Linked DNA regions of Homo sapiens: region 2 is linked to region 1. The links come from fine-mapping of genetic effects on gene expression. A gene starts in region 1. The other region holds a variant in brackets. All regions are shown on one strand. Distances are between the middles of the regions.

Region 1 (5,376 bases):
TTATTCAGTCTTCAAAAATCAGGAAAATCTGTCCATTGATGAGCCTGGAGAACATTATGCTAAGTGAAATAAGCCAGGCACAGAAAGACAAATACTTCATGTTCTCACTTGTATGTGGAATCTAAAACAATGGAACCCACAAACACAGAGAATAGAATGGTGGTGATATTTCAAAATTTCATATTCCAAAAGAGCTAAGAGTACATTTCAAATGTTAGCACCACAAAAAAACTATTAAATTCCATGTTGAGTCATTTTTGTGTAAAAAAAGATAAAATTTTAGGTGATGAATATGTTATTTACCTTGATTTAATCATTCTACATTGTATATATATAAAATACCACTTTGAACTCTATAAATGTATACAATTTGTAAATATACAATAAAATTATACAAATATAAAAATAAAAAGATTTTCTAAGCAGTGTCAAATAAGTCCATTTTATTTCATATCTACTGTGTCTGAATTCAGACATGCCTGACGTTTAGGAGTGTGCCTAGCCTTCCCTAGGGGAGATATTCTTTTTTTTTTTTTGAGACAGAGTCTCACTCTGTTGCCCAGGCTGGAGTGCAGTGGCGCAATCTTGGCTCACTGCAACCTCTGCCTCCCGGGTTCTAAGAGATTCCAGGAGATATTCTTTCCAATTTATTGTCAGCTCCGTTTAGACCTATAGTTCTCCAAGTATGGCCCCATGTCCAGGAGTATCAGCATCTCCTGGGAACTAGTTAGAAATGTAAATTCGGGGGTCCACTCCTGACCAACTGTAGGGGCAACTCTGTGGATGGGACCTAGCAATCTTGGTTTTAAGAAACGCTCCATCTGATTCTGATTCACAGGAAAGTTTGAGAGCCACTGACTTAGACTGCTATACTGTTGTTTCTCTGGTAAACAAAGAGGCTTCTTTTCTTGTTCAGAGAAATATTGCTTAGGATTTCTGGTGGGTGCACAATTCCCTGCTGTGAACCGAGTTTGCTGGAAAACCAAGTAACTAGCACCTCCATCGTAGTCCTACCCAGAGCTTGCAGGCTTTGCACTCACGTAAGACTGATTCTTCCAGAGGCGCCTGGAAGTCCCATTGTGATGGGCAAATGCTCTTACCAGAAATAAACTAGTTGTGGGGACCGGGCGCGGTGGCTCATGCCTGTAATACCAGCACTTTGGGAGGCCGAGGCAGGCGGATCACTTGAGGTCAGGAGTTCGAGGCCAACCTGGCCAACATGGTAAAACCCCGTCTCTACTAAAAATATAAAAATATAAAAATTAGCCGGGAGTGGTGGTGGGTGCCTCTAATCCCAGCAACCCGGGAGGCTGAGGCAGGAGAATCACTTGAACCCGGCAGACGGAGGTTGCAGTGAGCGGAGATCACGCCACTGCATTCCAGCCTGGGCGACAGAAGTAGAGAGACTCCTTATCAAAAAAAAAAAAAAGAAAGAAAGAAAGAAAAAAAAAAAGAAATACACTAATTTTGGGCCTTAAATGCTACTCAGTTCTCCAGTTCACCTCAACAGGGAGGGAAGGTGCTTGGAGGAAAATTGCACTTCGTTTTTGCCCTGCTTATTTTGTCTTCAAAATATATGTTAAATCACCGCATCAAAGAGCCGTCCCAGATCTCAACTCCCAGATGAGTTCGGTGGCACCCAATAGATTTTCATAACACAGGATCTATCTCTGTCTCCTTGTATTGTAATAGCCTGTCTCCAAATGCAGATAGCAACCGGCAGGCTGTAAATGTCGAGGAAAAAGCCTAATTCCTTTCCTCATCCGGAGCCTCTAGTGCAGTACCCAGCACAGAGCAGGTACTTGGTATTTTGGTAAGGGAAATCAATCAACGCATCAATAGCAGAATCTGAAACCAGGGACCTAGATCTTTCCAATAAAATCATCCTGCTGAGATGTGACTCAGATGTACTGGTGCCCAGCAGACAACACGTTTTCGCCCTGATTTTATCCTCCATTCATCCGTCCGCCCCCTCCCCCATAGACCCCGCCTGTCCCCAGCTAAAAATAATGAGGGGATTCACACATCTCAGTGTCAACACACACAACACAGTTGACACGCCCCTTAATCCTACAGCTACGCCATCAATTCTCGCCGCCGGGTCCGTCCGCTTGTCAGTTTCCCCTACTCCTCATCCCCTCGCAACTTCTGATCCCCTATCACTTCCGTTCCCGTTTGCCTGCTAGGCTGGAAGCAGGATGTGTCTACGCCCTCAGCCCATAAGAAGTGCTACAAACCTCCGCCTCGCTCGCTGTCATGGCGGCGACCGACGGCCCCTTTCCTGTGGCCTCAGAAAGCAGCGACAGTCGCAGTCACCGGACCTTCGCCCATCCGCCGCCCTCACTTAAGCGACGCACAACGGAGCTCCCACAATCCTCTTTGCTTCCGCTCTCTTTATTTCCGCCTCCCCCGCCCCCGCCTCGACATTAACCGTTTCGCGACTACGTCAGTTGGCCGGTCTGTTTGGGAGAGCCAGGCGACTAATCTGGTATAGAGACCGAAAAACACAGGTAAAAAGACCTAAAAGACTTAGTCATCTATTGGAACATTTCCCCAGTTTGTTTGTAAGTTGGCTTGCAAGCTTATCAGTCATTCTCAAACAGGAGCTTAACTTACTTAGGTGAACAGTTCATGATGACGCCTTTAAGCTGCTAGACCAACCCAAACTCCGAATTTGCAGTTTCTGACCTTTCACCTTGAACCTGTGCCCTTTCTACCCTCTATTCTCCATCTCCTTTTGGTTCTTGTCTGACTCTTTAGCTGCATATGTAAAGAGCACAGACTTTGAAACCTGAGCTCCCGCGTTCGAATCCCCACTGTACCACTATCTAAACATGGCATCTTGGGCAAGTGATTCAAGCATGCTATTCCTTGGCTTTTTCATCTGTAGAATTGGTATAATAATAGTACTTACCTCCAGAGTTGCAGTAAAAATATTAAAATTTCACATGTGAGGAGCACCTAGAACATTGCCTATCATGAAGTTAAGCAGTATATTGAAATATAAATTATAATGATTGAATTTGATCTCACCTAAGACCTCTGGCTAATAAATAATAAATGATAATAATCATTTCACCTGGGATAGAGGGGATTGCCCTGTTCTCTCCAGGCTGAGGCTGTAATACCTGATTCTAGGGACTGCTGATATGGAAATTACTACCACTCTGGCTGGAGTCAGAAGAGTATATTAAAGAGTCTCTTTGTACTGTCCTAAAATAAGCAAAATCCAACGTTTGCAGTTCTATGGACCACGCACTATGATAAGTGCTTTAAACCCATTTTGTTGTTATTGCTTCATCCTCACAATAGCCCTTTGCTGGTTCTTAAGTGTATTACCCTTTCCTGTCCTCTTTGTCTGCTTAAAGCAGCTAAGAAAACTCAGATTAGTCAGATTGCATATAAATCAATAACTTGCCCACGGTCACAGAGCTAATAACAAATAGAGCCAAGACTTAAACTCAGATACATTCAGATGTGTCTTGGTATTTCTCAAATATCACTGAGAAAAAGGCCACCATAAATTCTTTTCAAGTGCTCTCTCTCCCCCAACTCCCCACCCCAAGAATTGCCTGAATGCCCATACAGAAAGACTAGGTTCTCTTCAGAAGCAGAAGGGCAGAACCCACTAAGGCAAAGATCTCTCCCTTGAAGGCTGGCAGCCAAGGAGGTGACTATAGTAGGAATTGGCATAACCAGCTCACTCATTGCCCTCCACTGTGCCACACAGGCCCCATTACTTCCTATAGTACTGAAGACCACTGGGGATAAAGGTACAGGGCCTTCACCTCATCCCACCGTTCTGTAAAGCTTGGATATTAGCAAAGATCTTGCTTATTTTAGGACAGTACAATGAGACTCTTTAATATACTCATCTGACTCCACCCAGAGTGGTAGTAGTAATTTCCATATCAGCAGTCCCTAGAGTCAGGAATTACTGCCTCAGCCTGGAGAGAACAAACCAATCCCCTCTGTCCCAGGTTAAAACAAAACAGGAATTCCCTCTGTTCCTTCAGAATGTACGGTACCCAGGATGTTGTTATTCTTGCTCCACACCTACCCACTCTCACTTCCCAACTTATCATCAGGCAGTCCACAATGGTTTTTTCAGGGGAAGGATTGGTGATGGTGAAGGGACTGAAGGAGAAGGTAAATCACCAGGTTTGCTGAAGGTAAATGAAGCACTGCCTTGTCCCTACCTCTGTACCTCTTTTGTAGCTCCCTGACCTTCTTTCTCATTTGGCATTTCAGAACCCATCACTCCACACCTAGGAAACCCTCTTGGGTTTGAATTGCAGACAAATCATCTTGTCTTTTATTTTTTCCCCCAACACCCAACGATAGCACACATGTCTGGGCTTGGCCAAATTTAAAAACAAAAATAACAGAGGTAGCACGGAAAGACTTTTTACTTAATTTTCTCCATTATTTCTAGCTGTCAAACTATTAGAAAGTGTCAGTGTAAGGGGTAGAGCTGTGAGAAGTCGAGTTTCAGAGGCGAGGAAAGAGAAAAATCCTGATGCAAAGCAAAAGTGTTGGCAGAGGAAAGACGAGCCAACAAGAGTGTCTCTAGGGCCGGTAGAAATAAACAAATGGTGGAGATTGGTGAGTGGGTTTCATACACAAAGAAACCTTTCCCTTTTAGCTCCTTTCACCCTACACACCATATCCCCATTCCAGAGACTTCATCTGCCTTAAATTCTCCTAACCAACCCAGTTCTTTCCTTGCTGGGCATCTTGCCCTAATGGCAGAATTCACCACCAGCTGCTACTGCTAAGCAAACTGGGTAGTTGAGGGGAGAGGATGTTCGTAAACCCAATGTTAGAAAGGGAGATGTGTTCCTAGCATCCTTAGTCGTACTCATAGCATATTTTTAGAAGCAATGCTCTACGTACATAATTTAAGTGTTCAGGTTCTGCAGTGCTTTCTTCAGTATGTTTCAGTTATTTGTTTCTTCAGAGCTGTTCTGGGGTCCTAACATATATATGACAGTGTTTCTATACCATAGTGTTTTACACAGCTGGTGACCAGTTCAGGCCCCCTTTACAAGGCAGATAGATCCATCCCCCAGCTGCTGTGGGTATTAGCTGATGAATACAGCTGCTTCCTTCTCTGCAGAATTGCACTCTGCAGAAGAGGTTCATTGCCTGGGAGATTTCTGTTTAATAACCCCAACCCCTACACACACAACCCTGCAGCCAAAAGCAATGACTAACTGATGATGAGAGTACAAGGGTACCTTGCCTCAAGGTTGACCAATTCTGTGGTGTAAATCCTACTCCAGAGCTCCTCCTGGGATTAGGCTAGAGCTTGTTTCCAGCGAGCTTAGGTTTTTTCCTCCAGCCATATCCTGCTTCTCTCACTCCGCTGCTGCT
Region 2 (5,376 bases), 47 kb before region 1:
AGGAAGCAGGTGGGGTAGTATGAGATACCAGCATTCTAAGTGAGTTTTATTATCAACTTGATGTGTGACCTTTAGAAATTCAGTGACATCTTGGAGCCTTACCCATCTGAGCTGTAAATGGAGCAGAAAGGGCAAAATAATTTTTAGTCATCTCCATACTGTATCTGTCAGAGGGGGGTGATATTGGGCATTCAGGTCAATAGTTGATAGAGGAATTGTACTTTTCAATCCCCAACTCCTTCTGCCATTTTTGTAAATCATTTTGGGGGAATAAAGGTGAACAATAATTGAGAAACATCTAACCTTAATATGTAATCCATTTTATAAATCCAATCCTTTCCATTTTATGGGAGGGGAGTTCGTGTTTCTCCCATGTATTTTCTGTTAAGATGCCAGGCTTTGGAAAGGGCAGACAGACCCGAGACTGAATTCTGCCTCTGCCACTTAGTTGTGTGACCTTGGAAAAGACATTTCATTCAGTCTCAGGTTCTTCAGCTACAAAACAGGGGTATTAAGATCCACCTCAAAACGTTGTGGCAGAGATTAATAACATAAAATGAGACAAAGTGGTTGAGAATCCATAACATGGTGGCCTTGATAAGAAGGATCAAAAAAAGATGCTTCTGGACTTCACTATCTGTCTCCACAGAACGCATGCTCCTTCTGGATGCTCTCGGGACAGCCATAACCAGATACAGGGGCATTTGGGAACAAATCTTCTGTTCCCAAGGGAGGCAGGGAAGCCCTTACTTCCACAAATAGGAAGGTGCAACATAAGCAATCTAGGAGAGCCTGGCCCCTTCACATGAATTCAAAGTATAGACCACAGAATGGACCTAGAGTTGGCCTTAAGCAGATATCACCTGTACCCTATGACCTGCCTCCTATGTTTACAGCCTAGTAAAATGAGCCCAGAGGATTCCAGACTCTCCCAGCCAGTCTAGTCCACATGGGTAGACTGTGTGACTGCCCCAGGATCCAGCCACAAATGAATGCATTTGTCTGTTCATTCAGGGCATCTCTCAGCCAGTCCTTTGGTCTGCTCACAAACATGTATTGATCATCCACTAAATCATTGTGGGTAAACCACCATAGAGCTAGAGTGAATAGAACTTGGTGCCTGCCCTCAAGTGCTTAGAAATCTAGTCAACTAGCTTGGGAGACAGGTCAACAGTGTGCTAAACTCTACAGAAAGACAAAATAAAGGGTACAGTAATGAAGGTGGAAGCAAAAAGACAACAGCAATTTATTCCACCTGAGAAGGGGCATATGACTCAATCCTTAATTGAGTAGAGTAGAATAGGCTGTTGTTAGGTAGGGGAGTGAGGGCAAGCATTCTAGGCTGAGGAAGTGGCCTAAGGCACATAGGCTTAAGAGTGTGAGTTGTGCATGGGGCTGGCCTACCCCATGTGGTGAGAAGGAAATAGAGCTGTGGTTGACAGAGAGAAGCCCATTTAAGATGAGGACCACATTTGTCTTCTCCGCTGCATTGTGTTGTAGGGCACAGAGATGGGCTCTGGATACAGGCAGCCCTGGGTTTGAATTTCACTCTGTCACTTCCTAGCTTTATAACCTTGGCCAAGTTTCATCATCTCGCTGATCCTCAGTATCCTTATATGTAAAATGATTGTCATGAAGGATGCATGAGACAAAGTATGGAAAGTGCTTAGCACAGCACCTGGTATATAAGTTGCTTCATAAGTTATATTAGCAGTTTCATTTTTTAAAAATGAGATAATAGGAATAAAGGCAAGATAACAATTAAATTGTTCTAAAGGCTGCAATTGGTCTAATGAACTGGGTTATCTACAGAATGCATTTTGGACTGCTTGTTTGGAAGGCAGCAAAGAAGAGTTTTCATGGGCTTTGGAGTTCGACATCCCTGGCCTGCAGTCTCAGTGCCTCCACTTACAAGTTGTGAAGCCTGACACAAGTTACTTAATGTCCCTGAAATTCAGTTTCCCTTTCTGCAAAATGGGATACAATAGCTGTCTCAACAGGGTTGATAAGAAGCTTAAAAGAGATAACAGACAGAAAGTTCCTGGCACAAAGGAGGCAGGCAGCCAAAGGCAGCTATTATTGTTTCAACTGAAAGCTTTATCTCCAAACCTTCAAGCTTTTAAGGTTTATTTGTTGAAATTAGAAAATGTGGTCTCATTAGAGGCATCAGTTGGAACACACTCATACATGTGAGGC[C/CAGAGATAGG]ATGTCCTGTATCCAATTGAAGCCAGGTTGCAAATACTACCCCCATCCCTGCATGAAGAGTCCCTCGCTTTGTTCTAGTAGCCCAACCCTGGCACCTTTACACAATCCATTTCCTGTCATTATTTTTGTCTGAGCTCTGACACCTATTCTTGGTCCTATGTGATTCCATCCCTACCAAGTCCAGCTGCAAATACCTAATTTGGTGATAAAGCCAATTTAAACACTGAACAAGACTCTTCTGGGAGGTAAGGGTCAGATGTCACGGGATGGGGGAGCAGAAGCAAAAGTCTGAAGGAAACCTAAGAGCAACTGCCAGCATCACCCCTAAGTGTGTGAGGTGAGCAACTTGCCTTCTCCATACATCCACACTTTCCAGCCTCCACCACCACTACCCCACTGTTCCATCCACAGACCATGATCCTGAGATGGAAGGTGCTTATCTCCAAATTTTTATTGTTTACTCCAAGGAACTCTAGATCTTGGGGTTGTAAATAAGAGGGCGGAAAGGAGCAAGTGAAGTACCTTGGCAGACTGAAGATGAAGCCAACAGCAGCGGAAGGGCATCAGACTGTTTACTTGCTTCTAAACATCAGGAGTCAAGAACAAGCCCCACAGAAGCCTCCTAGCCACACTATACATAAAGGAAGTAATACCTGCTCTCTAAGTCAGGGAAAAATGGAGCAGGTTTTCCAGCCACTGCCTTCATGGCCATTCACTTTGGACAGCCCTGCATGCCGTTTCCATGGAGTTGCTCCTTCTCTGGGGCCAGTGATGCCAAATCCAGCAAAGGAGAAGTACCCTGAAGAGCTCACAGAAGGGCAACCTAGCAACCTGTCCTTGAGCCAGGAAATGAAAGAGCCATATCAGCAACAGAGAGCTGTGGTTTGGGGGTTAGGTTAAATGGGGTTTTATTTCTCACACTTCTTCATCAAGCATGGCTTGAAGAAGGAAGACGTTATGACAGACCCATTTGAAAATCTGCAAAGCTGTGGGCTCAGAAGAATGTACGGAGTCCAGATTCTTTGCATACAATTCCAGGAAGGACCTCGGGTAGGAACCTGTGCTCTGGAGTTACATTTCATGACAGATATGCCATGGACAGATACACTGATGGCAGGCCCATTTACTTATAACCTTCAGCATCACGTGGTGGTGTTTAGAAAAGTGGTTCATGAATCTCTCTACACCTCAGAATCAACTACAGGGCTGGTTAAAACTACAAATCACACTCTTCACCCCTAGTCCTACTACATCAAAATCCCCCAGGGGTAAGGCCCAATAATCTACATTTATAACAAGCTCTCCAAAATGATTCTGAGGCAGCTCACCTTGTACTCACACTTTGGTTAATAGCATGAGTTCTGGATTCAGAGACTCAGTTCAAATTTTGGCTTCACCTTGTATTTTCAGACAAATCATTTTACCTCTCTGAGCCTGGCCTCTTTGGGGTCACAAAGGGCTGTCGAAATTATGTTGCTTTTATAAAACAGGCAGCTTGTTGTGTAAAAAGAAAAAAAAAGAAGAAAAGAAAAAAAGATTAATAAAAAAAATGAAAGAAAGAAAAGTACCAAGAAGAGTTTCCTCTTCTGTACAATGGGCACCATAAAGGTTGCCCTCATCTTCCCTCAGCCCTCTCCCCACTACCTCCTCACCCCCTCCCTCAGCACTATTATCACATTGAGACTGCTGTTGAGATGGTTTGAGACTACCTGTGCAAAAATACTCTCCAGGCAGCGCTGCAGGGCAACGAATTAGCATCTAGAGAGCAACAGACGGTGCTAGGTTGGATGCTGTAACTTATTTGCTGCAGGATACAGGCCAAAACTAGTAACCTGTCTCTCTCTGGCTCAGTTTCTTCATCTGTGAAATGGAGATAATGGTTCTTGCTCACCAATTCTATGCAATCCCAAGTTGGTCCTCCCATCTGGCTTTGGTTTTTCTCCACTATCCCTTAATCTGACAGAATAGAGGAGTGCTGGCAAGGGGCAGCCTTTGAAGTCAGACATGGTGACTTGGGTGTGAGCTCTTAACTCTGCACTTCCTAACTGTACTGCCTGGGTGCTTCAGTCCTTTCCTGTTAAATGGGCACACTACTACCTCCTTCACACGGCTGCTGAGAAGAGGAAAGGAGATGTCCATGCAGGCGCCTCTGCACACAGAAAGCACTCAGTAAACGCTGTTTCCCCGCTTCCCCCTATACAAAGGTGAGGAACTCTCATTGTTCACTTGGTTTCTGTCCCACCTCGTGTTTAAGGTATCCGGTCTAAAAGCCCGGAGGAGAGCCGAGGTGTAAGGGGATAGGGAGAAGGGAAGAGATGGGTTAGCAGCAAACTCACGGATGAAAGGGAAATGGGCCCAGTCCGTGCGTCCGAGCTGCTGACGCCGTGCCGCCTCCCGCGCCTGTCTGCCGCAGCCCCCGCCCGCCGGCCCGCCGGCCAGCCGGCCCGCTCCCCCTTCTTGCTAGCAGTAGCTTCGGGGCCGGAGGCTGTGCGGCGAGGCCGCCCCCTCGCCCCGCTGATTGGCCGCGTCGCCCGGCCCGTCACGCTCTTTTGTCTCAGTCGCCAGAGACTGAAAGCAACCGCGGCTGCCCGGAGGGCCGAACTGGAGGGTGGGCGCAGCCTTGGCTGCCTTGGGAACCGTGCTGCCTCGACTCGGCTACCCCTCGCTGGGCGGTCGTGCGCACTCGCTAGGTCGGGCAGCCCCGGGTCGCTTAGCGGCCGAGGAGGCGGCAGAGATCCCGTTCCCCTGCAGAGCTACGGGGACCGGAAGGCGAAACAGAGCTGTGGACGCGGGAGCACATGCTGCCCACCAGTGGAGCACAAGTAAAGAAAGAACGCGCGATTGCCCGGCGCGGAGAGGGGTGGGGGAAGCCCCGCCAGGACTGGGCGGCGCCCGGCTTGGAGAATCAGTAACTGCGAGGCAGGGGATGGAGCACTCCCTTGGCCTGGTTGCGCTGAGGAAGGAGTTGTGGTTCATCTGGATGCTGCCGACTGGATAGGATTTAGGATTTGCCTGGATTAAGGTGGGTGGGGGTGTTGTCGTAGGTCGGGGGTGTTGTTGGGTGTCGGGGGCGGGGTGTGTTCGGGGAGGTGGCAAGGGGCGGGAGGAGACGATCGCAAGCTGTCTTGAACCCCTTTTGCATCTCCTCATCTCTTCCTGGGAAGGAATATGAGGGTGGGA

Direction of the effects. Alleles are on the strand shown, and positions count from the first base shown. SD is a standard deviation of normalised expression in the study named.
In carriers of allele CAGAGATAGG in region 2, the expression in testis of the gene that starts at base 2,369 in region 1 tends to be lower than with C alone (small effect, 0.21 SD a copy in GTEx).

What was found. PIP is the estimated chance that this variant, and not a neighbour inherited with it, causes the effect.
Region 2: its variant is fine-mapped to the expression of SLC25A53 in testis (GTEx, PIP above 0.99).

Annotation. Positions count from the first base shown.
Region 1 is chrX:104,154,641-104,160,016 of GRCh38, forward strand. SLC25A53 (solute carrier family 25 member 53) reads right to left here and starts at 2,369. Exons shown (of 2, transcript NM_001012755.5): 1 at 2,238-2,369. It also overlaps a transcript of FAM199X not described here. RefSeq lists an enhancer at 2,143-2,442.
Region 2 is chrX:104,107,784-104,113,159 of GRCh38, forward strand. The region is part of intron 1 of SLC25A53 (solute carrier family 25 member 53); the gene reads right to left. ZCCHC18 (zinc finger CCHC-type containing 18) reads left to right here and starts at 4,740. Exons shown (of 3, transcript NM_001143978.3): 1 at 4,740-5,218. RefSeq lists an enhancer at 3,024-3,263 and a silencer at 4,461-4,690. The variant C/CAGAGATAGG (reference allele first, on the strand shown) is at 2,197.